Linked DNA regions of Homo sapiens. The protein of the gene in region 7 purifies or fractionates together with the protein of the main gene of each other region. This does not show direct contact. Each region holds a gene or a part of one and is shown on either strand. Other genes may lie near its edges. The genes, in order: ABCA2, TCTN2, FIRRM, CNNM1, NPC1, RAB6B and DIPK1A.

Region 1 (3,500 bases), on a different chromosome or scaffold from region 7:
TACCCCTCATGCCTGCCATAGACCCCTGGGACCCTCCCCCTCTCCCAGGAGGAGCTCCAAGTCACCAAAGGGGCCCTTTCCTCACCCACGGAGCAGAAGCACCCCCAGAGGCAGGCAGCACTCCAGGCCCATCCCACACATGGATGCCCTCACCTCCATCCGGAACAGGGGATTGCCCCCTAGGCGGCTCCAGGGCTCCTGACCCTTGTGGAGGCCAGACTGTGAATCCAGGGCAGATGAGGGACCAAAGAGCAGGTGGTAGACCTAGGAGGTGTGGGGGAATGGCTCAGATGGGGTGTGGGGGGCGTGGCTCAGATGGTGGGGGCGTGGCTCCGATGGACGTGTGGGGGCGTGGCTTAGATGGTGGGGGCGTGGCTCAGAGAGTGGGGGCGTGGCTCAGATGGTGGGGGCGTGGCTCCGATGTAGGTGTGGGGGCGTGGCTCAGATGGTGGGGGCATGGCTCAGAGAGTGGGGGCGTGGCTCAGATGGTGGGGGCAAGGTTCAGACGGTCTGGGCGTGACTCAGGCTGAGCATCCTGAGGATGGCTCAGCAACCAGGGGGCGTGGCTGGGGCAGAAGGGAGTGGCCAGGGCTGGGAGCTGTCCCTGCCTTACCTCGGGCGGGTCCACACGGGCGGCCAAGAGTGCTTGGGCCGTGCTATTGGGCAGCGACAAGTTTTGCGTCAGGAAACGCCAGAGCTCCTGCGGGTTTCTGGCCACCGAGTCCAGAGAGAAGGAAGACACTGGACAGGCAGGAAGGCGAGGCTGAGAGGCCGCTGCACCTTGGCAAGGTGCCCCCACATGCGCTCGGAGCCGAGCCCAACACCACAGCTCTGCCACTGCAGCCTGTGCGTGGCTGGGAACTCAGTGCAGGTGGAGGGGCCCAGAGTGGATGTGGGCTTCAGCCCAGTGACAGCAGAGCTTTGCCCGCAGCCCTGCCCCCCAACTTCCCTGCACAGGGCACACCTGTGGATCTGTCCAGGTGGCTCCCCGAGGTGCCCGGGCCCGCACTGAGGGCCTCCAGATGCTGGCGTAGGGCCTCGAGCTCTGAGCCCAGGCTGGGCCGCGCTGGGTCAAACAGGTTGCCTTCCTCCACCACGCGGTCCAGGCGCTCAAGCAGCTGCGTGACCCTGCACCATGGCGGATGTCACTCACTGGATGGGCTGGGGAGGGGTGGGTGCTCCGAGGGGCGGGTGGGCACTCACGTGGAGTTGGCGTACTGCAGGAAGCCGAACTCGTCTCGCTGGCCGTCCGGGCACAGCGATTGCATGACAGGCAGGATGCCGGCAGACGTCAGGGGCGCCGCTGTGTAGAAGGCTGGCAGACCCACGGGAGAGGGCAGGGTCGGGGGTGAAAGGGGAGAGAGAGAGAGAGGAATCCAGAAGGGGAGGGAGACAGAGGCCGAGAGGAGAAATTTAGAGAAAGTCAGGAAGGAGAAGCAGCGTTAGGGAGAAGGCGGCACAGAGCCCTGGCCCCAGCTGGGCTACAGGCCAAGCGTTCTGGGGCGAATGACTCCAGCAGGTCAGAGGTCAAAGAGCCACTCACCACCCCTTCTGCCATAACTCCCAGAGCATTCCTTTCCTTTCAGCCAGTGCAGGCCCACATGCCCTGGCACTCTCCCCCCGAAAACGTTTCAGGTGTGGCACTGCCTACAGAGCCCAGGGGAGGACAAAGGACCCCCTCTGGGCAGTGACCTCTGACCTCTGGCCAGCTGGTTAGCAGAGTGAGTGCAAGAGCCTGAAGGAGTATGAAGGGAGAGTAGCCAGGCCGCTCCAGCCCCAGCCCAGGCCAGCCCAGCCTCAGCCCAGACTCAGCCCAGAAGCCGAGGCACCCCAGCCCTAGAAGGCAAGGCCAGGCAGAGAGATGCCGCCTCAGCTTGACCCAGGCACCAGCTGTGCCTTTAGGTGGCCGGGCCTTTCACTCCCTACCACCTCCCACTTCACTGCCTGCCACCCCCCATCTGGAGCCAGCTGTTCCTGAGGCCGGCAGGGGGCCCGGGAGGGCTGTTAATGCAAGCGGGGAGGGCGCTCAAGCCAGGACGGCCCATGGGCCCCCCGCAGCTGCTGCCCAGGCCAGCCAGGAGGAGGTGGCCGCTCACTTACAGACTGCATGCCAGCCGAGGACAAGAGACCATGCGGGGAGGGAGGGGGATCAAAACAGAACAGAGGAGACCAGTGAGTGCCCACATCACCAGGAAGAGGCGTTGGCATCATCATTCGCGGCCACAGGCCAGCCCCGACCTCCACAGCCCAGCCAGGAGGCACGGCCCAGGACCACACAGGGGAGCAGGCACCGCACCTCAGGGACTCCGGGAGCAGGACACCCGTGTGCAGATGTGCACACACAGCGCAGGCGTGCGAGGTGCCGCGCTCCCCCGGCTGTGCCTGGGGCCTCCTGCCGCACTCACCTTCCTTCACGGAGATGGTGGGCTTCTTCTGTCGCAGCCCCAGCAGGATAAAGAACAGCACCAGGGGGATGAAGATCTCGAAGGCCAGGACCCACTGGAAAGGGTGGGCCCAGTGAGGGATAGGACAGACCTGTGCTCGCCTAGGCCCTCCCCAGCCTCCCATAGGGCTGGCCCAGCCCAGACAGGACCACGTGCTCCCTGGGGCCAGGGAAGGTGGGCACAGGCCCTTCGGAACCACTGAAGGTCTGAGCCCCTTCCAGGGCACTGAGGGTAAGGATTGTCTGGCTCAGCAAATCAGGTTTCCCGTCCCCAGCCCACACTGGGCCTACGTGCCCTCTGAGGAGCCTCAGGGCCTACAGGGACAAATCGGCCAGCTTGTGGTCTACTCTGACCCATGTATATCCCAGCTCATCTTCTCCCTCCCCACCTCCAGGGCTACCTGGGCAAAATCTTGGGGACCATCTGAGCCACTAGCCCCGCCTACACTTCCCACACTGCCCCGGGTTCACCTTCCTCCCACTTCCTCCCCACCAATACCGGGGCCTGGGGAGATGAGGAGGCCTGGTTGAGAGGCTTGGCCTGCGCCCAGGGCCCTGAGCCTCGGAGAAGACCTGGTAAGGGGTCTAACAGCCCCAGTCCCTGAAGCAAAGGCACCTTTTTTTTTTTTTTTTTTTGAGACGGAGTCTCACTCTGTCACCCAGGCTGGAGCACAGTGGTGCGATCTCAGCTCACTGCAAGCTCCGTCCCCCAAGTTCACACCATTCTCTTGCCTCAGCCTCTCGAGTAGCTGGGACTACAGGCGCCCGCCACCATGCCCAGCTAATTTTTTGTATTTTTAGTAGAGACGGGGTTTCACCGTGTTAGCCAGGATGGTGTCGATCTCCTGACCTCGTGATCCGCCCACCTGGGCGTGAGCCACCACACCTGGCCCAAAGGCACCTCTTTCTGCCCTGTCCCCTCTCCTGACCCGGGGCAGCCAGTCTTGGGCCTTGGAGCTCAGTTTCCCCAGGTCGGCTCCTGCTAACCCAGGCTGGGCACCAAGGTGAGCCCTAGTGGGACCTGCGTGGAGTGAGAAAGAGGTGCTTTGCTCACTTC
Region 2 (3,500 bases), on a different chromosome or scaffold from region 7:
CTCGTTAATTAAATCATAAATGCACATAAGAAACAAGTCCAACTTAGTTTTATGGGTTATAATTATGAGAATCTTGAAAAGAGGAAAAAAAAATACTTTTCAGTGAAAGCATGCTTGCTACCCTCATCAAAGTTACCTTTCTGGTGGGCATTAATCTCTGCCCTAAAAATTTTAACATTTATTTCACTGATGGTATTATTATTCCATTTGAAAATATAATGTTCTTCCACATTCACAATTCTAGGGGTTGATCCGTTATTTAAAGGAGTTTCTGCAAATACAAGAATATGTTCATAAATTAAAGACCCTCTTTGAGCCTGACTCTGTTACTGGGAGGTTCTCTCTGCTTGCGTGGCCTTCCCCAAGTGCCCTGCCCCTGCCCTCCCTATCTCCAGCTCCCTAACATGGCACGGTCACTGCTTCCTTGAGGAAGCCTGCCCTGGTCCCACCAAGTCAGCATTAGCTGCCTCCTCTATGCCATCACAGTACCCAGAATGAGATCTGTTCCTTTCATTTCTATATCTCCAGCACCTGGCTCATAGCTTGCCATGGAGCATGCACTTGGTAAAATGTTTGTGAGATGAAAGACCAGAGGGTCAGTTCCGCCAGGGCAGGGGCCCGCTATCTAGTTCCCTACTACGGCGTAGGAACTCCACTAACATTTGATGAGCCAATGAATAAATTTGAGAAGTACAACACATCAGAAAGAGACACCCAGCACTTGGGGAGGCCGAGGTGGGCAGATCACCTGAGGTCAAGAGTTCGAGACCAGCCTGGCCAGCATGGCGAAACCCTGTCTCTACTAAAAATACAAAAATTAGGCCGGGTGCGGTGGCTCACGCCTGTAATCCCAGCACTTTGGGAGGCTGAGGCAGGCAGATCACGAGGTCAGGAGTTCAAGACCAGCCTGGCCAACACAGTGAAACCCCCTCTCTACTAACAATACAAAAAATCAGCCAGGCATGGGGGCAGGCACCTGTAATCCCAGCTACTCGGGAGGCTGAGGCAGAAGAATCGTTTGAACCCAGGAGGCAGAGGTTGCAGTGAGTGGAGACTGTGTCACTACACTCCAGTCTGGGTGACAGTGAGACTGTCTCAAAAAAAAAAAAATACAAAAAAATACAAAAATTAGCCGGGATTGGTGGCAGGTGCCTGTAATCCCAGCTACTCAGGAGGCTAAGGCATGAGAATTGCTTGAACCTGGGAGGTGGAGGGTACAGTGAGCTGAGATCACCCTATTGCACTCCAGCCTGGGCGACAGAGCAAGACTCTGTCTCCAATTAAAAAAAAAAAAGAAAAGAAAGAAACAAACAGTATCCTTCATTAAAAACTAAAGTTCTGGTAAAATTAGCCAAACTGAGCCAGTCGCCGTGGCTCACGCCTGTAACCCCTGCACTTTGGGAGGCCAAGGCAGGTGGATCACCTGAGGTCAGGAGTTCGAAACCAGCCTGGCCAACATGGTGAAACCCCGTCTCTACTAAAATACAAAAATTAGCCAGGCATATGGTGGTGAACACCTGTAATCCCAGCTACTTGGGAGACTGAGGCAGGAGAACTGCTTGAACCCAGGAAGTGGAGGTTATAGTGAGCCAAGATTACACCACTGCACTCCAGCCTGGGTGACAGAGCAAGAATCCATCTCAAAAAAAAAAAAAAAATCTGCCAAACTCTACGTAACTTATTTGGCTGCATCACAATTGGAAAGTTTAATTATCAAAAAAAAAAAAAAAAAAAAAGGAAAGAAAGCAAAAAGTGAAAATGCTGTGCCCTAAAAAGTTCTTTTAACTGGTCGGGCGCGGTGGCTCACACCTATAATCCCAGCACTTTGGGAGGCCAAGGCAAGTGGATCACCTGAGGTCGGGAGTTCGAGACCAGCCTGACCAACAGGGAGAAACCCCGTCTCTACTAAAAATACAAAATTAGCTGGGTGTGGTGGCGGGTGACTATAATCCCAGCTACTCAGGGGGCTGAGGCAGGAGAATCACTTGAACTCAGGAGGCGGAGGTTGCAGTGAGCCGAGATCATGCCATTGCACTCCAGCCTGGGTGACAAGAACAAAACTCCGCCTCAAAAAAAAAAAAAAAAAAAAAAAAAGAATTATTTAACTATCAAACATTTAAGGAAAGGTTCACGGAAGCTGGAACTAGAAGGGTCGGTGGAACTCAGAGAATCCAGGACTGTGGAGGAGCAGGCTCAAGGTCACAGAGAGCACTCTAAAGCCCAGCAGGACAGAACGAGGAACAAATGAAATGTTCCTGGCAGATCTTTCTAACTATTGTGAACCTTTTTAAATGACTAACAAAAATATACACTCTGAGGGTATATATTACTTGTAAGAAATGACATATCTGTTTCTGAAGAAATGACGTCAAAGTGTAACATTAAATACCTGTATTGGTGATGAATTTGTCTAGGTCAGTTGCTTCCTCATAGATCACTTTTGGTGTAACTATGCCTAAAGAGATAACATAAATTAACTTCCACAGGCGTACACATGGCCTACCATGATCACACTTACTCAAAGTATAGCTTACAAAGCAAATATGGTGACCGCAACTGCCCAGGGTGCTGACTACAAAACCCTCCCCACTCCCCAAAAACCATCAGATAGGAGTCCCCATCCTCTTAGCATCTAATTATAACGGAGGAAGAAAATCCACAACAAACACACAAACAAACAAAAACCAGGGTCACTGTGACATAAAAACAAATATGCAGTTCACTGCTGGTGGCAATACAAAATGGTGCAGACACTGTAGAAAACAATTGGCCAGGCGCAGGGGCTCACGCCTATAATCCCAGCACTTTGGGAGGCCGAGGCAGGCAGATTGCCTGAGGTCAGTTTGAGACCAGTCTGGCCAACATGGTGAAACCTCCTCTCTACTAAAAATACAAAAAAATTAGCCGGGCGTGGTGGCTCATGCCCGTAATCCCAGCACTCTGGGAGGCCGAGGTGGGTGGATCACCTGAGGTCAGGAGTTCGAGATCTGCCTGGCCAACATGGTGAAATCCCATCTCTACTAAACTTCGTCTCTACTAAAAATACAAAAATTAGCAGGGCGTGGTGGTGGGTGCCTGTAATCCCAGCTACTCGGGAGGCTGAGGCAGGAGAATCGCTTGAACCCAGGAGGTGGAGGTTGCCGTGAGCCGAGATCGCGCCATCGCACTCCAGCCTGGCGGACAAGAGCAAGACTTGGTCTCAAAAAAAAAAAAATTAGCCAGGTGTGGTGGCACATGCCTGTAATCTCAGCTACTTGGGAGGCTGAGGCAGGGGAATCGCTTGAACCAGGGAGGTGGAGGTTGCAGCGAGCCGAGATCACGTCACTGCACTCCAGCCTGGGTGACAGAGCAAGACTCCCTCTCAAAAAAAAAACCAAAAAAACAAAAAAAAAACAATTTGGTGGGTCCTCAAGAAGTCATATTAGCATGACCTGTCAGTTCCACTCCTAGGTGTCTACCCAAAAGAAATAAAAACACACATCTACGCAAAAACTTGGACA
Region 3 (3,500 bases), about 77 Mb from region 7:
AGTAAATTCAGCATTCTGCCTATTTTAAAACAACTTTTTTTTTCTTTTTTGAGATGGAGTTTCGCTCTTGCTGTCTAGGCTGGAGTGCAATGGCGAAATCTCGGCTCACTGCAACCTCCACCTCCCAGGTTCAAGCAATTCTCCTGACTCCGCCTCCCAAGTAGCTGGGATTACAGGCATGTGCCACCATGCTTGGCTAATTTTGTATTTTTAGTAGAGACGAGGTTTCTCCATGTTTGTCAGGCTGGTCTTGAACTCCCAACCTCGCTTGCCTCGGCCTCCCAAAGTGCTGGGATTACAGGCGTGAGCCACCACACCCGGCATTTTTTTTTTTTTTTTCTGAGATAGAGTTTCACTCTGCCGCCCAGGCTGGAGTGCAGTGGCGCAGTCTTGGCTCACAGCAACCTCTGCCTTCTGGTTTCAAGTGATTCTCCTGCCTCAGCCTCCCGAGTAGCTGGGATTACAGGCATGCACCACCACAACCAGCTAATTTTTGTATTTTTAGTAGAGACGGGGTTTCACCATGTTGGCAAGGCTGGTCTTGAACTCCTGACCTCAGGTGATCCACCCGCCTCAACCTCCCAAAGTGCTGGGATTACAGGCATGAGCCACCACGCTCCGCCCAAAAACAACTTTTAATAGAAATAAGCTAGAATTTATCAGACATAGTCTTTTCAATATATATTTTTACTTTTGATTTAAGATTTAGATTTTTATAGTATTTTTAAGGATATTGTGAAAATGATATCAGTGCCTCAAAGCAACAAAGATTTCTCTAAGATTATCAACTTCTCATTTTATAGAATTATGGCTATGTTTAGTTTAGAGATCTTGATCCAATTCTGGTATCAATTCAGTACTTTGAATTTTGTTTTATAAAATGCACACTTATTTTTAAAAACTTAGTTTTTAATATATTTTTACTACCAGAACATCAGTTTATAGTACTTACTCTACCTAAAATTAGAAGATAGCTATTAATGAATGAGTTTTTTTTCTCTCCCTTCCCAGCAAGTTTCCTCCAAGCCTTTATGCTACCAGGATTTCTAAAGCACACCAAGAGGAAATAGCAGGTGCTTTCCTAGTGACACTGGATCCACTTATCAGTCAGCTGCTCACATTTCAGCCTTTCATGCAGGTGGTTTTGGACAGTAAATTAGGTAAGCTTCAAAATAGATTTAATGATAAATCATCTATTATGACATGTTAGAGACACTGATTTCCCCTAGCCATTCTTTTTTACAATTAAGAAATTTTTATTAAGTTTCTTTTACTTTCTTTTCTTGAAACATATTTCTTATTTAAAAATTATACCTGGCTGGGCACAGTGAATCACACCTGTAATCCCAGCACTTTGGGAGGCCGAGGTGGGCAGATCACCTGAGGTCAGGAGTTCAAGACCAGCCTGACCAATATGGTGAAACGCCATCTCTACTAAAAATACAAAAATTAGCTGGGTGTGGTGGCATGTACCTATAGTCCCAGCTACTCGGGAGGCTGAGACAGGAGAATCGCTTGAACCCAGACGGTGGAGGTTGCAGTGAGCTGAGATTACACCACTGCACTCCAGGCTGGGTGACAGAGTGAGACTCTGACTCAAACAAAAAAAAATTATTCCTTTACGTATTAATCAGATTTCTGCTGAATTAATGTGTTTTTATTACATGTAAGACCTGCCATGTGAACTGCAGTTTCCACAATGTCTTCTTCTGGTTGTTGTCATGGATAAGCTGCCATCTCAGCCTAAGGAAGTGCAAACCCTGTGGTGCACAGACAGCCAGGTCTCAGAAACGACAACCAGGTAGCAAACATGTTTTTATCCAGTCATATTACCAATGGTTAAGAAGGCCCTGTTGTTTGGAATGGTCTTGAAATTAAGTTTGTGTGTTTTTTTTTTAAATCAGATATTTATGTTAATAGTTATTGTGTAGACACACATATATATTGCTACTTTATAAAAGCAGATAAATATAAAATATATAAACCTATATTAGATGCTAAAAATATTTTAATATTTAATTTTGTTCAGTATTGCTTAATGGTCAGCATTATAAACATTGATTGTAATAGAGTAGCTATAAGTAGAAACATTTAAAAACGAGCTCTGATAAATAGAACACTAGACACTGTAAGGTATATCCTGGCAAATTTAACCTTTAATCATCTTCCTTGCCAACACCGTAGTCCAGGCTCTAGTTTCTTTCTTCCTGGATTACTCTGTGCTCTAATTTTTCACCTCTTCCTTTATCCCATTCTGCGTACCACGATGAGGTTAGTCTCCCTAAACCTGGCTCTGAGCTTCCTATTCTGCTCAAAAACTGAAACATAATGTTAGAACTTCTCAGCTTTGGATTTAAAGCCTGTCCCATACTATTGTCATCTTCTGCTTTTTCTCCTCATTCTTGTATTCATTTTCAACACATATTCCTTGCTTCTGTCACCCCCTTATTTGTGTGCTTTTACTCGTGCTTTTGTCTTCTTTACGTACTTACAATTTGAACAGTTTTGTTTTGTTTTTTTTTTGTTTGGAGCAGGGTCTTGCTCTGTCACCCAGGCTGGAGTGCAGTGGCATGACCATGGGTCACTGCAGCCTCAACTTCCTGGGCTCAAGTGATTCTCCTACCTTAGCCTCCTAAATAACTGGGACTAATGGTGTGTGCCAGCTGTCCTGGCTAATTTTTAAATTTTTTCTAGGGATAAGGTCTCACTATGTTGCCCAGGTCTTCCAACTCCTGGGCTCAAGTGATCTTCCCGCCTCGGCCTCCCAAAATGCTGGGATTACAGGCGTGAGCCACTACACCCTGCCCATAACTTGACTATTTTTAATTTGTTGTTTAAATCCTCTAAGTTTCTTCAACCATTTTAATCTTAAAATGACTCCTCGTCTGCTACTTATTTTCTGTTTTTCCATATAATATCTAATTTAGCTATTTAAGTTTCAAGTTCCTTGAGGAACTTTGACTTTGTGTAACTCAGTACCAAGATAAACAGTTGGTAAATGATGCAAAAAATGTCCAGGAAAATTCTCCTTTAAGGAATTTCTTTGACAGTGAATATATTTTCCTTTTATGTGTACATATTCACACGTGTTGGAAACTATTGCTGATTATACCTCTTGAAACATTTTCTGCTTAAACAACCTTCCATGTTACATATTATTATTATAATTGCTAATTAGTAAATGTTATTAATGTTGGGTTCAATGTTCTCAATTTCCCTGCAGGATATCTCTACTCAAAGCCGTTTTCTACAGTTTTGAGCAGTGTTCTGGTGAACTCTCTCTACCTGTTCATTTACAGGGATTAAAGAGTAAGGGGAAAGCTGAGGTGGCTGTCACCTTGTATCAGCATGTTTGTGTTCATCTGTGTACATTTATTACTTCCTTTCATCCCTCACTGTTTGCTGAACTGGTAAGCATATTACTTACTGTGCTAAGCTAAGGTTACACTTTTGCTTTCTCTTCATTGAAATTGTGATTCATATACAGAAGAAAATGTGGG
Region 4 (3,500 bases), on a different chromosome or scaffold from region 7:
CCATGGCCTTTCCTCAGTGCCTGTCCACAGACAGCAAGAGGCTCTGGTCCTCTCTTCTTAGAAAGACATCAATCCTGTTGGATTAGGGCCCACCCTTATGCCATCATTTAATCTTAACTACTATACTTCCTTAGAGGCCTCTCTGGGTGTCGTTAGGGCTTCAACATATGAATTTTGTGGGAAGACAAACATTCAGTCCATAACAATCACCAAAGCTGGCCAAATAATTGGATGCCAATATTGCATCCAACTGCAGTCATGTCATTTTGGTCAATGATGGACTGCATGTATGATGGTGATCCCATAAGATTACATTGGAGCTGGAAAATTCCTGTCACCTAGTGATGTCCTAGCAGTCATAACACCTAACATCGTCCTAAGGCAACACATTACCTTTACTATGTTTAGATACGCAAATACTTACCATTGTGTTACAATTACCTACAGTATTTGGCACAGTAACATGCTCTACAGGTTTGTAGCCTAGGAGCAATAGATTATAACATATAGCCTATGTGTGTAGTACACTATATCCTCTAGGTTTTGTGTGACTACATTCTATGATGTTCACACAATCATGAAATTGCCTAGCAATGAATTTCTCAGAGAGTGTCTCCATAGTTAAGCAGTGCATGACGATTTCTTAAATCTGTACATAATTTAATCCACTATTTGTTCCACTTAGGTTATTCACTGATTTTATTCAACAAATAGTTGTGTTGGCACAGTGGAGAACATCATCAACATAGTCCTTGTCTCTATAGAGCTTCACTCTAATACAGGAAACAGAAATTAAACGAACAGGATAGTGATTAAGAACATAAGATTTGGCCAGGCGTGGTAGCTCACTCCTGTAATCCGAGCACTTTGGGAGGCCGAGACAGGTGGATCATTTGAGGTCAGGAGTTAGAGACCAGCCTGGCCAACACAGTGAAACCCCGTCTCTACTAAAAATACAAAAATTAGCCGGGCAGTAATGGTGCACACCTGTAATTCCAGTTACTCAGGAGGCTGAGGCAGGGAGGTTGCAGTAAGCCAAGATCATGCCACTGAACTCCAGTGGCAACAGAATGAGACCCTGTCTCAAAAAAAGAACATAAGACTTACTAGAATGCCTGGGTTGATACTGGCCCTGGGCAAATTACTTAACTGTTTATGTCTGTTTCATTAGCTGTAAAATGAAAATAATACTAATATTTACTCATAAGATTGTGTGAAATATTAAGACTATCGCATTATGCTTACTTACTACCTGTCATGTAAGTACTAAGTAGATGTTAGCTATGATTATTAAATATAAACACAAGTCTATTACTCATTTATGCAAATGCCTCCTAAGAAGTTACACTTTTTCACATTTTTGTCTCCCTCAAATTCGTTCTCTCTAGTGCCACTAAAATAATCTCCAGTAATGTCACTGCTTAAAACCCTTCAGCAGCTCCCCGCTGCCTACGGGAGAGAGGCTAAGCTGGTAAGGCAGCCAGCAATGCACTCATGACCTGCTTCTTGCCCTCCCCTCCAGCCTCATCGCTCACCACTCCCTGCCACAGCTTTACCCTCCAGCAATGCTGAACTCTGTGGTGCACTGTGCTATTCTTGCCTTTGTCCCTTTATTCACATTGCACTTCTGTCAGGAATATGCTTTGCCTGACTAATTCATTGCCAGCTCTTTGACACTCAGCTCAGGGGCCTCCTCCTCTGGGAGACTTCTCCTGTAAACCCCAAAATACAAAAATAGATTTTTTGGCCAGCTTCATTGTTTTATGTGCATATCTCAATCATTGAACTAACAAGCTGTACTACCAGTGTTTGTTTATAAGTGCCTCCCACCCATATAATGAGCATCTCCAGGGCAAAACTGTCTTATCTGTCTTTGTAGCTCCAGCAGCTAACGATGCATATGACACATAGTAAATTTTCAATGAATGTTTGTTTAAGGACTGAATGGATGACTTAAGGAGTTAAACTTTAATATAATGGAAGAGATCTGCAGAGCACTAGAAAATGAATTAAATCATTTTGGACTATGCAGCAGAACAAATCAAACTTATAAGTTTGTTAGTGTTAGAAGAAAAGTGTTGCATCTATTGTTTCTCAGCTTCTTTAGGTACATCTATTAATATTTATTACAACAATTTCTTTTCACATGTAAAGCACTGTGCTAAGAGTTAGGGGTATGAGATAAAATCTCTGTTCCCAAAGAGCCTAAAGCATAGTGGATGAATAGCACTTCCCTTTGCAAAGCTAGAAGGCAAGCTGGACACTCACCTTTCCCATGACTTCCAGTGACCTTGAATTTACAAGTCATGTCTCAGTATATAAGTACAGGATATGGGTAAGACAGACCTTGGTACATAAAGCATTAAAATGAAAGTGCTATACTAGAAATGCAAAAATGCAATGGGAACATGGAGGATACAATAACTATGACTAGGTGGCATTTTTTTTTTTTTTTTTTGAGATGGAGTCTCACTTTGTCGCCCAGGCTGGAGTGCAGTGGTGTGATCTCGCCTCCCAGGTTCAAGCGATTCTCCTGCCTCAGCCTCCCAAGTAGCTGGGACTACAGGCATGTGCCACCATGCCCGGCTAAATTTTTGTATTTTAGTAGAGACGAGGTTTCACCGTGTTGCCCGGGGTGGTCTCGAACTCCTGAGCTCAGGCAATCCGCCAACCTCGGCCTCCCAAAGTGCTAGGATTACAGGTGTGAGCCATTGCACCCAGTCATATTTTGCTTTTATAAATTTTTTACTGAAGTTTATGTTTCTATAATTTATACAGAAAAAAATTTAAATATAGAATAGTAGAAAAAAGAAGTATGAAAATCATATGAGGATAATCATCCCACTATCCTGAAATAGTAACTCAATATTTTGTCATATTAAAAATATATTGCACATAATAACAATCTTAATGAAATTCTTAAAAAGAAAACAAAAGGAAAAGCCCATTGTCCTGCCATCAAGCACAAATCAAATGTCCCATTCTAATCTTAAGAGTGATTTTCTTATAGGGTGGTATTTTTGCTATAGTTTCCTCAGGGTTGAGTGCTATAATTTGGGAAGACTAATTTTAAAAATGGAGCCGTAGAGATTTATCATACTTCTTAAATTTACTACTCTATTATTGGATTGCTTTTAGGAGACACTGAGTTCTGTATAGACAACAGGGGAAAGGAATAAAGCTTTGTTCTGAAGTCAAAGCTTCTGAGTAATACAGCACTGACTGACATTTAACTCAATTAAACAATTCAGCTTTGCTGGGCTAGTAACACCATCTTTGCAAACAAAAAAGCACAACCCACGTATGCTAGGCTGCTCCACCTGTACACTAGCATGGCTGTAACACAGCCTACTGCACAATCCATACTCAGTCTTTGCTTATTCATTGATTCATTCAGTAAACATTTTTTGAATTCCTGCTTTGGGCCAGGCATTACACTAGACTCTGGGAATACAGTGGTGAGCTAGGCAGACATTATGGAGCTAAAAATATCCTCTTCC
Region 5 (3,500 bases), on a different chromosome or scaffold from region 7:
ACCGTGAACGCTCTGGTTATGTGGCTGCAGAACTCCACGGAGATGCCACAGCTCTGAAATAAAGCACTTCCTTTAGGATGGCTCTCTTCCTGTTGAAGACCCTAGGCAGCCACCCCGTTCTGAGGATGGGTGCTAATTACCCAGGGCACCCTGGGTGCTAGAGGAGGCCAAGCATCCCATTGGACTTACAAGGCCTCCATCACACCAATCTTACTGTACCAGGAACTTTTTGGGGCCCTCTCTACACACAGCCAAAAGCCTGGTTTTCTGTGGCACGTTTGTGTTGACCAGGAGAAATTGCTGGAACCCGTTAAGGTCACCCCACCCGCACCGAGCTGGCGCATTGTCACAACTTCTTTTCTTGGACCTCAGTGCTCCCCTATCTGAAGCAGGGCTCATATCTGAGAGTACGGATACACTGTTCTATTTTCCATGAATACCTTCTCAAGTGCTCTCATCTTTAATGATTAAAAGTACCTGATAACCACATAGGAGGCAAAAGGCACTGGTCGGAGAGCTCCTGGGGCGGGGTGCAATTTTCTAAGTAAAAAGTGAACATCCTGCTGTCATCAGGCTACAGGCTTGTGCAATCTCTAAAGAATAACAAATTACAGGCAGACTAGCCCAGAACTAGGCCAGGAAATCACATTTCCATGGTCAGAGGCACCATCAGGTATACTAGTATAGCCGCAAGGAATGGGACAAGAGAAAAAATTGAACAGAAATTGCCTGTAATGTGCCTATGCTCCCAGATGTCCAACTCAATGCTCGCTCCCTCTATGCCCTGTCCCACCACCATCCAGCACTCCTCCAGCACTCATCCTGCCTCTCCATGTGTGCCAAGAGCAAGCGCCAGACTTGGTATCTTACTCCATCTTTAGGGTTTACATGGAATCTAAGACAGCCAATTCCCCCAAGTGAAACAGGAGCTAGGGACAAACTGAGACTGTATGAGGACTCACCATCACCAGGTTGACCAAGGATACAGCGTTCAGACTGATGCCCCAGAGCCACATAACTCCAAACATGTTGACCAAGACCATGGCGATGGTGGCACACATGATGACTGCAGACCAGAGCTCACAGCCCAGGAGGACCATGGTCACCAGAAATATCGCGCCCAGGGACACACCGAGGTTGAAGATAGTGTCGTCAATGATGGTCAGGTACTGTTCGTAGAAGACATAAAACACACTGGAGGGGAGAGGGGAGGCCTCATTAAAGCTCGCTCTCACTCCCGAACACTGCGTGTTCATCCTGTCACCACTGCCAAGTGGTCAGACTCCTTTGGGAAACATCCCTTGCAGAAAACCTTGCTGGCTGTCTACAAGACTCACCGAAAGCAACTCACTTGACCTCTCATGGCCACTGACCACCCAGAGAAGGGCCCAGCAGTGATGCAAAATGTATATTTTTGATAAAGTTTCTGTTTATAAGCCCAATCTATGCTATTTTATAGACATTTACAGAGAGCATTCCACAGCATTCTGAAAAAACACAAAAAAACAAAGAATCCTGATCTATCCTGAGACACTACCTCAGGCTCAGCGGGGTCCGTGCAAGGCCTGAGGAAAACATGCTTTCATTTATTTTCTGCCAGAGCTAACCGGCTCTTAACTTCTTCCAAACAAATCCAGGCCTTCCTGCTTTAAGCGAGATCATGGGGAGGCAGGAAAAATAAATCACTTGTTTCTCCTACCTTTCTACAGTTTCTAAATTCAGTAGTTCATACATAATACTTTTCTTCCTGGGAAAAAAAACCCCTAACAATATAAAAAGTCTACATACAGGCAGCATCCCAAATAACCAGCAGTTAGGGATTCTGGTTCATTGTTGGCCAAGAATGTGGGCCGGGCCCTGCTCTGAGCCGCCTGCTCTCCAAGCGCCCCCTGCCTTAAGCCATTTTCCAGTGTGTGTCTCTTGCAGCTGTGCAGTGGCGCAGAGATCAAGTTTTGCGTCTCTAGCCCTCAGGCCTTCACAGAGACTTTAGATTCTGAACTCCTTTGCCCAGCACCCATTTCCTTTGATATACTGCCCTGTGCTCAGAATGGAGCAGGGGCCAGAACCCAACCTGAAAATCAGCATCTTGCCAAGGGAACCCTCCCCACTCCCACCCAGTGTAGGCCCTTTGCTGGGTAAACCCCATTGAAAAAGGGCAGGCTTTACCTGTAAGGAAATACTCGGTAGGCACTGCCGTTAATGCCCATGGTTTCGGTGACATTACTGGCTATAAGTCGGGCTTTCTTCAGAGCGTCAATAAAGTCAGCAGAGGTCTGCAGCACGGTGTGGTAGGTCATGAAGTACGTGGCTCCGACCCTGGTGCCATGGCCAAGGAGGATGTTAACTGCAGAACTATAGGCAGCATGTCCCCTGAGGAAAGAATCCTGGGTGTCAAGAGAGTCCAGGTCTTGCAAAATATCAGCAGAATCTGAGCACTTGAGGCTAAGCAAAATCACCTGACCCTGGACTCAGAGGTCAGACCCAGCTGTACATTTCAGGGATGAAGAAGGCCCCCAGATAAGGGAACACCAAAGGTTTAGCTTGTTCTCTCCCAGACTGGCTTCTTTTTTTTTTTATTTTGAGACAGAGTCTTGCTCTGTAGCCCAGGCTGGAGTGCAGTGGCGTGATCTCGGCTCACTGCAACCTCCACCTCCCGGGTTCAAGCAATTCTCCCTGCCTCAGCCTCCCGAATAGCTGGGATTACAGGCACCTGCCACCACGCTCAACTAACTTTTGTATTTTTTTAGTAGAGACAGGGTTTTGCCATGTTGGCCTGGCTAGTCTTGAACTCCTGAGGTGATCTCAGGTGATCCGCCCACCTCGGCCTCCAAAAGTACTGGGATTACAGGTGTGAGCCACTTCGCCTGGCCAGATGGGCTTTTCTCGATTGCTCTGGGTTCTTTGGTACATAGCTGCTGTTTCTCCACCTGGTTTCATGTATAATCAAAGGTACAGGGTTTACTCAGTCCTGTTGTGTAATAGGAAGCAGGAAAGGGCAAGGGCCCTGGGAACAACCTCAGCCCTGCCACTTACTGGTCATGTAACCCCGAGCAAAATGACCACCTCTGAGCCCCAGTCTCCTCTTCTGTAAATGGGTATACCACCACCTACTCATAGGCTGCGTGATGAGAAATGGAATAATGTCAGGGAGTGCCTGGCATGACGCTGGCACCCTGGAGGCTCCCCAGGAACGGTGGCTACTGCCTTCAGAAAAACTGAATCTACTTCAACTTATTTTACGTAGGCCAAAGCATCCAGTCAGTGAGTAAATCAAGCTGCAAGATTCATTTCTACTTAACTTTTAGGAGGAGTCATCCCATGATACCTCGAATAGGTCTCAAAGCACATGCATGATATAAATGATTCACTGATATGACTCTGGTCAGATGTATGTTCTTATGAAAAACCTAAGTTCAGGGTTTACCTAACATACATGGGGATACTCATCTTCCACCTCCCAAAGCTTCCAAATCAAGGCCAGAGACTTCCGGTCATCATCA
Region 6 (3,500 bases), on a different chromosome or scaffold from region 7:
CAGACCGTGGGACTGCTGGGGCACCTGCTCCTTGGTGAGCCTTCCTGACCCCCCCGGGGGGTGGGTCTCGAGTCTGCTCTGAGAGCTCCTTGAGCAAGGCTGGAGAGGCCTAGCTTCCCTCCAGGCCTGTGTCAGGCTCCCCCTTGCTGCAGCCCTGGGACTCCTGGTGTCCTGCCCGCCCTGCCCCAGCAGCTCCATGAGGCCTCCAACATTAAGCTGTGTGCTTCTTTTGCTTTTGATTCTCATCAGCCCAAAGGTGCCCTTCCATCTTCCCAGGGCCCTTCTTTGATCTGTCAGGGATGTCTACCCTCAGAGGCCTATAGGATCAGTGGGGGATGTTGGAGAGCTGCTGTGTAGGGACAGGTCCACTGTAAAGGATGCCAGCCAGGGATCTGCATGCTTGTTTTCTGGTGGCTTACTCAGGCAGGGACATCTGACTAGATGCAGGGGAGGCCCAGGTGTGGGCAATGGCTTCCCCTGCTGAAACAGTTTTCATCTGATTCTCTCAAATGCCCTTAGAGGGACAGTGTCCCACATGGAATAGGGCTGGATATGGAGGAAGCAAGCCTGAGTGTGAATCCTAACTGTAACTTACATGCTGTGTGACACTGGGCAAACCAGACTACCTCTCTGAACCTCAGTTTCAGCATCTAGGTGTCTCTTCAGGTTGGGGCTGGTTTGTGGGTGATGCGCAATGGTCCCACAGATCAGTGGGGAGCCTCAGGAGCTGTTCAGGGCTGGGTAGAGAAGGTGGGCGGGACAAGGAGGGGGCATCTGTCTGAAGGGGGGAGCTGTCTTGAGTAGACTGAACCACGTTGAGATCATATCCCCAGTGACAGAGACTTCCCTGCAGTGGAGACTCTGCCTGTGTTCATGAAACCCATAAACATGCTCGCTGTAAAGAAGGGCAAAGTCGCTGTTTCTCACTCCCCACCCCACAGCATCACTCTGTGCACACCCCTTTGGTATCTTCCTGCTATTCTGGAAGAAGAAGTAGATGGTTAGAGCCAGACGGGGGCTCCAAACCATAGGGTTCAGCTGCATCCCGCCTAGAGGAGGCCCCGTGCCATTCGCGGCAGACCAGGGAAGGCTGGGCGGGGACTGGGCGAGTGTCTGTCCACTGCACTAACATATTCAGTGAATAAATGGCTTCTATACATCTTTTCACTCACTTGTCAAAGGAAAAGGATACTCCCTTCTTTGCTTTTCTCCTGGACATTCTCCATTCCGGGTAGAGCCGACGCCACACGTCGAAAAAGCTGGAAAGATGAAGAAATGCAGTGTGAACCCCAACCCTGGCCCTCCCCTCTGCTCCTCACTGCACCTGCACCCTCACCCCTCTTCCCCTCCCAACCTGCAGCTTTACTCTCCCATCTGCCCAGCGGACGGTGCCCTCAAAGGCAGGGGCTGTGCCTATGTTCTCTCTCCCCCACCTCTCACAGCATTGGGTCTGGGCAGGCCTCAGTAGCTTGTGGAAGGAAGGAACAAAGCTGTGGCCTCTCACCCAAGCAGACTGGCCATAGGGTCACTGGGATGAGCTTAGGTCATGGCAGTGACTGCAAGGGACTTCCTCTGGTGCAGAAAATGGTTTGGGCCTCTGGGTGACAGGCCTTAAGGTGGGCTTCTGCAAACAGCCCTCATGGGGACCAGGCATGGGGAAGTGACTTGCCCTTGAGATGAATGACTCTGCTTGGGGAGCCCTGCAGGTCCGGCGCCAAGGCAGCGAACAGCAGGGCCAGGGCTGCATGGGCACAGTGGTGAGGCTTCTCTGAGAGCGCGAGGGATGCAGGAGTGTGAACACAATTTTGTGGGCTTGTTTGGATGTGTAGGAGTGTGAGTTGTTTATTGTGTGTAGGAGTGTGTGTACAGTGTATGTGTTTTATCTGTAGGACTGCGTGGAAAATGTGTGTGTTGTGAGTGGTGCGTGTGGGTAGGTGCATGTATGTTTGTGTAAGCATATGGGGGAATGTTTGAGTGTGGTGTGTGTGAACGTGTGGCATCTTTATGTGTGTGTTTGTGTAAGTGTGGGGGGAATGTGTGCATAGTGTGTGTCCTTGGTAAGGTGTGTGTCTGCGTACATGTGGGTTTTCTGTGTGTGTGTGTGTGTGTGTGTGTGTGTGTTTGGGCAGGTGTGGGTGGCAGGGGACAGGTGGCAAGTGGCAGATGGGGTGCTGGCAGAGATGGAATCTTGGAGGTGACAGGTACGAGGCAGAAGTATGAGGCACAGAAGACTCTGAACTGCTAGGTTCTGAATGCCGGTCCCCCTGCAAATTCCTATGTTGAAACAGAATCTCCAATGTGACAGTATAAAGAGGTGGGGCTTTAGGAGGTGCTTAGTCAGGAGGGTAGAGTCCTCATGAACGGGATGAGTGCCCTTATGAATGAGGCCCGAGGGAGCCTGTCTGCCCCTTCCACCTTGTGAGGATGCAGCAGGAAGGTGCCATCTAGGAGGAAATGGGCCCTCACCAGACACTGAATATGCCTGCACCTTGACCATGGAGTTCCCAGCCTCCAGAGCTGTAAGCAATACATTTCTGCTGTTTATATGCTACCCTGCCTATAGTGATTTGTTACGGTAGCCTGAAAGGACTAACCCAGGAGCACTCCCGCTGTCCTCACAAATGTGAATTGCAGGAACTGGGTGGGCTCTGGGCTCATACCCTCCACTGCATGAGCTCTCTGAAGACAGGGTGAGTCTTATTCATGGCCTCACCCCAGAGCCCAGCCCCAGCTGAGCACCCGGGCTGGGTGACAGGGCTAAAGGCCATGAGGGCCCAAGGGGGGAAGCTGCTGGTGGGCCCAGCATGGTGTGAGACCCTTGTGGGCGGGCTGCAGAGGAGGCTCTGCAGTGGGGTAGCCATTAGTAGGCAAGGGTAAAAGGGCCCAGGCCATCCTTCCTGAGCTTTCCTTCATGGCATTGGCCCTGGGCGGCTCTGATCTGCCTGTCTGGCTCTCAAAACAGTCACAGCCTCTACTAGTGGCCAAAATGCCACTAGGGATTTTGAAGGGTGCTCTAGGATCAGGTATGGGTTTCTAGGGTCAGGTATGGGTTTCTGTGAGTGGATATGCTCACATTTAGATCCAGGAGTCTGCACTGCATGGACACTCCTCTGAGCCACACAGGGTTCGAAACTGACCACATTTAACTCCTGCTAAACCACTGCATGGGTTCCAGAGCACTCTGGGGGTAGGGGCATCAGTGCCTCCCTGACCCTGACGGCTGAGGCAGATGCTACCTGCCCTATGGACCTCCTGGTGCTGCCCTGCCCTCCCTCTGCTTCCCTGCTTCCCATGACTTTAGGGCTCCCAAAGAGTAGCAGCCCAGTCTCTCCTGCATGCCCCCAGGGAGCAGGAAGGACCATGACAGCTTCAGCCCCACACCAAGGGAGGCTGGGAACAGATGGGAGTGAGTGAAGCCCTGATGAGGACACTCTAGTTAGGGTGGGGCACTGAGTCCTGGAGCTTTGGGGCCCCCAGTGTCACATAGTGTCCCTTCCACC
Region 7 (3,500 bases):
ATACAAACAGCCGGGCCCGTGGCACGGGCCTGTAATCCCAGCACTTCAGGAGGCCAAGGTGGGTGGATTGCTTTAGTCCAGGAGTTTGAGGCCTACCTGAGCAACATAGCAAAACCCTGTCTCTACAAAAAATACAAAAATTAGCTGGGTGGCCAGGCACAGTGGCATACACCTGTAATCCCAGCACTTTGGGAGGCTGAGGCGGTAGGTCACTTGAGGCCAGGCATTCAAGACCAACCTGAGCAACATTGCGATACCCCCTCTCTACTAAAAACACAAAAAATTAGCCGGGTGTGGTGGCACATGCCTGTAATCCCAGCAACTCCAGAGGCTGAGGCACAAGAATCGCTTGAACCTGGGAGGCGGAGGTTCCAGTGAGCCAAGATCTCACATCACTGCACTCCAGCCTGGACAATAGAGCGAGACTGTCTCAAAAAATATATATGTATTAGCTGGGTGTGGTGGCACACACCTATGGTCCCAGCTACTCGGGAGGCTGAGGTGGGACAATCACTTGAGCCCAGGAGGTCAGGGCTGCAGTGAGCCGTGTTCATGTCACTGCACTCCAGCCTGGGTGACAGAGTGACACCCTGTCTCAAAAAAAAAAAAAAAAACAAAAAAAAACCAGACAAGATTGCTTCCCTTACAGACCTTACATGATTCCAGAGGGACAGGAGGTACAAACAGTTGATAAATAAATAAATAAACAAACAAAATAATTGTAGAATATGGTGTGTTCTGTAGGAGACACAGAGGGCAAATTGATAGAGAATGCAGTGTAAGGGATGGTGAGAAGTGCTTTAGAGGATGTGATCAGAGAAGACCTTTCTGAAATAATATTTGAACTTATACCTTAATAAAAAATTCATAGGCATGGGAAAAGGACAGGATGAACTAAATCACAAAAGAACTGCAAACAGCTGATGAACATAATGAAAAAAAATTCTACCTTACTTTTCATCAGAGAAATAAGAATAAAACAGTAGAATATCTAATTGGGGTAGAAGAAAATACAACGAAACATCTGGAGCAGTGGAAAATTGCATTTTAATGTTCATCTTATGGTTCCTAAATTTTCCTATATAAATATGCATTATTATTATAGAAATTTAAACTAATTTTTCAGTTGACAGTATTAATCATGTTAAAGACAATTTCTAAAACAAAGTCCAACATTTGAGTGTCTCCTGCATGCCAGGCACTGTTTGAGGCACTGAGGGAGACAGATAAAGCCTCTGGCCTCATGTTCTAATGTGAGATGAGACAGATAGTAATGAACTGATAAATAAATAAATATGATAATTTTAGACAGTGCAAAAGGCTATGAGGATAATGAAACAGGGTTAGAGGTGACCTGGGGGTGGAAGAGGATCTCTTCTAGACAGGGGGTCAGGGAAGGCTTTCTAAATGCAATGTCTAATCTGAGACTTGAATGATGTAAAGGAGCCAGCCATGTGAAGATCTGGGAGAGTACATTCCAGGCAGAGCCAGCAGCAAGTGAAGCAGGTCAGGAAGCAGAAACAAGCTTCAACCTGTCACAGAAAGACCAGTGTAGCTGGGACTTTGAGAAACGGAGTACGTGGTACAAGATCAGGTTGGAGACATAGGCGAGGCTAGCTCAAATGGAGCCCAACCGGTCATGGAAAGGACTTTGGACTTTAATTGAAAGGGGAATTTATTAGAGGGTTTGGAGCAAGGCAGTGAAATAATGTTTTCTTTGGATTAATATTAAGAATGAATATGATCTTATTTATTTTTTTATGTAGAAGAGGGGCAACCTATCCTAGTGGTAAAGACCTCAGCTCTTTTCAGCATGTTACTTCACCTGTATCTGCTTCAGTTTCCCCATCAGTGAAATAAGTATAATGATAGTACCTACCACCTAAGATTGGTACAAGGATTAAAATAATAACATAAATCAGTAAAAGCCAGGTGTGGTGCCTCATACCTACAATCCCAGCAACTTGAGAGGCTGAGGCAGGTGGGTCACTTAAGGCTAGCAGTTCAGGACCAGCCTGAGCAATACAGCAAGACCCCATCTCTACAAAAAATGTTTTTAATTAGCCAGGTTTAGTGGTACATGCCTATAGTCCTGGCTACTTGGGAGACTGAGGCAGGAAGATTCCTTGAGCTCAGGACTTTGAGGCTGCAATGAGCTATGATTATGCCACTGAACCCCAGCCTGGGTGACAAAGCAAGACCCTGTCTCTAAAATAAATTAGTAGACCATAGGACATAGTTAACACTATATAATATTAGTTTGATAAATAACTAGATACTTAAATAGTAGTTAATTCTGGGGAAGTGGGATTATGGAAGTAGAATGTCTGGGAACTTTGCTTTTGCCTTACATCCTTCTCATTGGACTTTTTGAAAAATATATTTAGGCATGCATTACTCTTATAATTTAAAAAATTAGTTTAAGGAAAAAATCTTGAGTGTGATTTCAAGTTTGCAGTTCAGAAATAAAGTCACACCTTAACCTCAATGTTTGATGCTTGTTTTGTTTTGTTCAGAGGAGGAGGACCCTAAAAATATAGTAGTATATTTTTTAGAGTTTTCTACTCAGTATAATACATAACTTGCCACTCTTTTTTACATAGATGTATTTAGGGATTTGGGATAATCTACCAGGTGTTGTGAAATGTCAAATGGAACAAGCGCTTCATCTTGATTTTGGAACTGAATTGGAACCAAGAAAAGAAATAGTGCTATTTGATAAGCCAACTAGAGGAACTACTGTACAAAAATTTAAAGAAATGGTCTATAGTCTCTTTAAGGTAAGCATACCCATTCATATGTTGCTAGTGTGAAGTGGGACTCTTTAGAGGAATTGGCAGGACCTCATCCTAAGCCATTAAAGTGTTGATATTCTTTGACCTCTATCAGATTCTCCATCCTGAGGAAATAATTATAAGAGGCCGGGCGTGGTGGCTCACGCCTGTTATCCCAGCACTTTGGGAGGCCAAGGCAGGAGGATCACTTGAGCCCAGGAGTTCAAGTCCAGCCTGGGCAACATAGTAAGACCTCAGCTATATATATATATATATACACGTATATATATATATACGTGTGTGTGTATATATATATATATATATACACACATATATATATACACACATATATATATATATATATATATATATATATATATATATATATATATATATGCCAGGAGTGGTGGCATGTGCCTGTAGTCCTAACTACTTGAGATGCTGAGGTGCGAGGATTGCTTGAGCCTGGGAGGTCGAGGTTGCAGTGAGCCAAGATCTCACCACTGCACTCCAGCCTGGACGACAAAGTGAGACCCTGTTTCAAAAAAAAAAAGAAAAAGAAAAGAAATCTGTGTTGGAGAATGTTTACTTTAACATTATTTATGATAGCTAAAAATGTCCAGATATGAGGAGGGAGTTCATTAATTAATTGGAGTGCTGTACAGTTTGACATGAAAATTAATTCAAAAAAGGTGAAATAAAATGAGTATACTCTTAGAATTGTGG

Evidence for each region.
Region 1: the proteins of DIPK1A (region 7) and ABCA2 purify together in Homo sapiens (affinity purification with mass spectrometry; one large-scale study listed by BioGRID and IntAct). This does not show direct contact.
Region 2: the proteins of DIPK1A (region 7) and TCTN2 purify together in Homo sapiens (affinity purification with mass spectrometry; one large-scale study listed by BioGRID and IntAct). This does not show direct contact.
Region 3: the proteins of DIPK1A (region 7) and FIRRM purify together in Homo sapiens (co-immunoprecipitation; one large-scale study listed by IntAct). This does not show direct contact.
Region 4: the proteins of DIPK1A (region 7) and CNNM1 purify together in Homo sapiens (affinity purification with mass spectrometry; one large-scale study listed by BioGRID and IntAct). This does not show direct contact.
Region 5: the proteins of DIPK1A (region 7) and NPC1 purify together in Homo sapiens (co-immunoprecipitation; one large-scale study listed by IntAct). This does not show direct contact.
Region 6: the proteins of DIPK1A (region 7) and RAB6B purify together in Homo sapiens (affinity purification with mass spectrometry; one large-scale study listed by BioGRID and IntAct). This does not show direct contact.

The regions. Positions count from the first base shown.
Region 1 is NC_000009.12:137,021,738-137,025,237, forward strand, and holds part of ABCA2 (ATP-binding cassette sub-family A member 2), read right to left. Parts: intron 2,500-3,500; coding exon 2,406-2,499; intron 2,104-2,405; coding exon 2,101-2,103; intron 1,316-2,100; coding exon 1,204-1,315; intron 1,129-1,203; coding exon 965-1,128; intron 742-964; coding exon 614-741; intron 265-613; coding exon 154-264; intron 1-153. UniProt on the Homo sapiens protein: Probable lipid transporter that modulates cholesterol sequestration in the late endosome/lysosome by regulating the intracellular sphingolipid metabolism, in turn participates in cholesterol homeostasis.
Region 2 is NC_000012.12:123,691,613-123,695,112, reverse strand, and holds part of TCTN2 (tectonic-2 isoform 1 precursor), read right to left. Parts: intron 2,456-3,500; coding exon 2,390-2,455; intron 272-2,389; coding exon 137-271; intron 1-136.
Region 3 is NC_000001.11:169,826,040-169,829,539, forward strand, and holds part of FIRRM (FIGNL1-interacting regulator of recombination and mitosis), read left to right. Parts: intron 1-53; exon of another isoform or gene 54-176; intron 177-1,011; coding exon 1,012-1,160; intron 1,161-1,671; coding exon 1,672-1,801; intron 1,802-3,223; coding exon 3,224-3,410; intron 3,411-3,500. UniProt on the Homo sapiens protein: Regulates PLK1 kinase activity at kinetochores and promotes faithful chromosome segregation in prometaphase by bridging kinase and phosphatase activities.
Region 4 is NC_000010.11:99,335,856-99,339,355, forward strand, and holds part of CNNM1 (metal transporter CNNM1), read left to right. Parts: intron 1-3,500. UniProt on the Homo sapiens protein: Probable metal transporter.
Region 5 is NC_000018.10:23,534,507-23,538,006, forward strand, and holds part of NPC1 (NPC intracellular cholesterol transporter 1 precursor), read right to left. Parts: intron 2,371-3,500; coding exon 2,167-2,370; intron 1,195-2,166; coding exon 963-1,194; intron 54-962; coding exon 1-53. UniProt on the Homo sapiens protein: Intracellular cholesterol transporter which acts in concert with NPC2 and plays an important role in the egress of cholesterol from the endosomal/lysosomal compartment.
Region 6 is NC_000003.12:133,833,383-133,836,882, forward strand, and holds part of RAB6B (ras-related protein Rab-6B), read right to left. Parts: intron 1,260-3,500; coding exon 1,193-1,259; intron 1-1,192. UniProt on the Homo sapiens protein: The small GTPases Rab are key regulators of intracellular membrane trafficking, from the formation of transport vesicles to their fusion with membranes. Rabs cycle between active GTP-bound and inactive GDP-bound states.
Region 7 is NC_000001.11:92,846,463-92,849,962, reverse strand, and holds part of DIPK1A (divergent protein kinase domain 1A), read left to right. Parts: intron 1-2,603; coding exon 2,604-2,780; intron 2,781-3,500.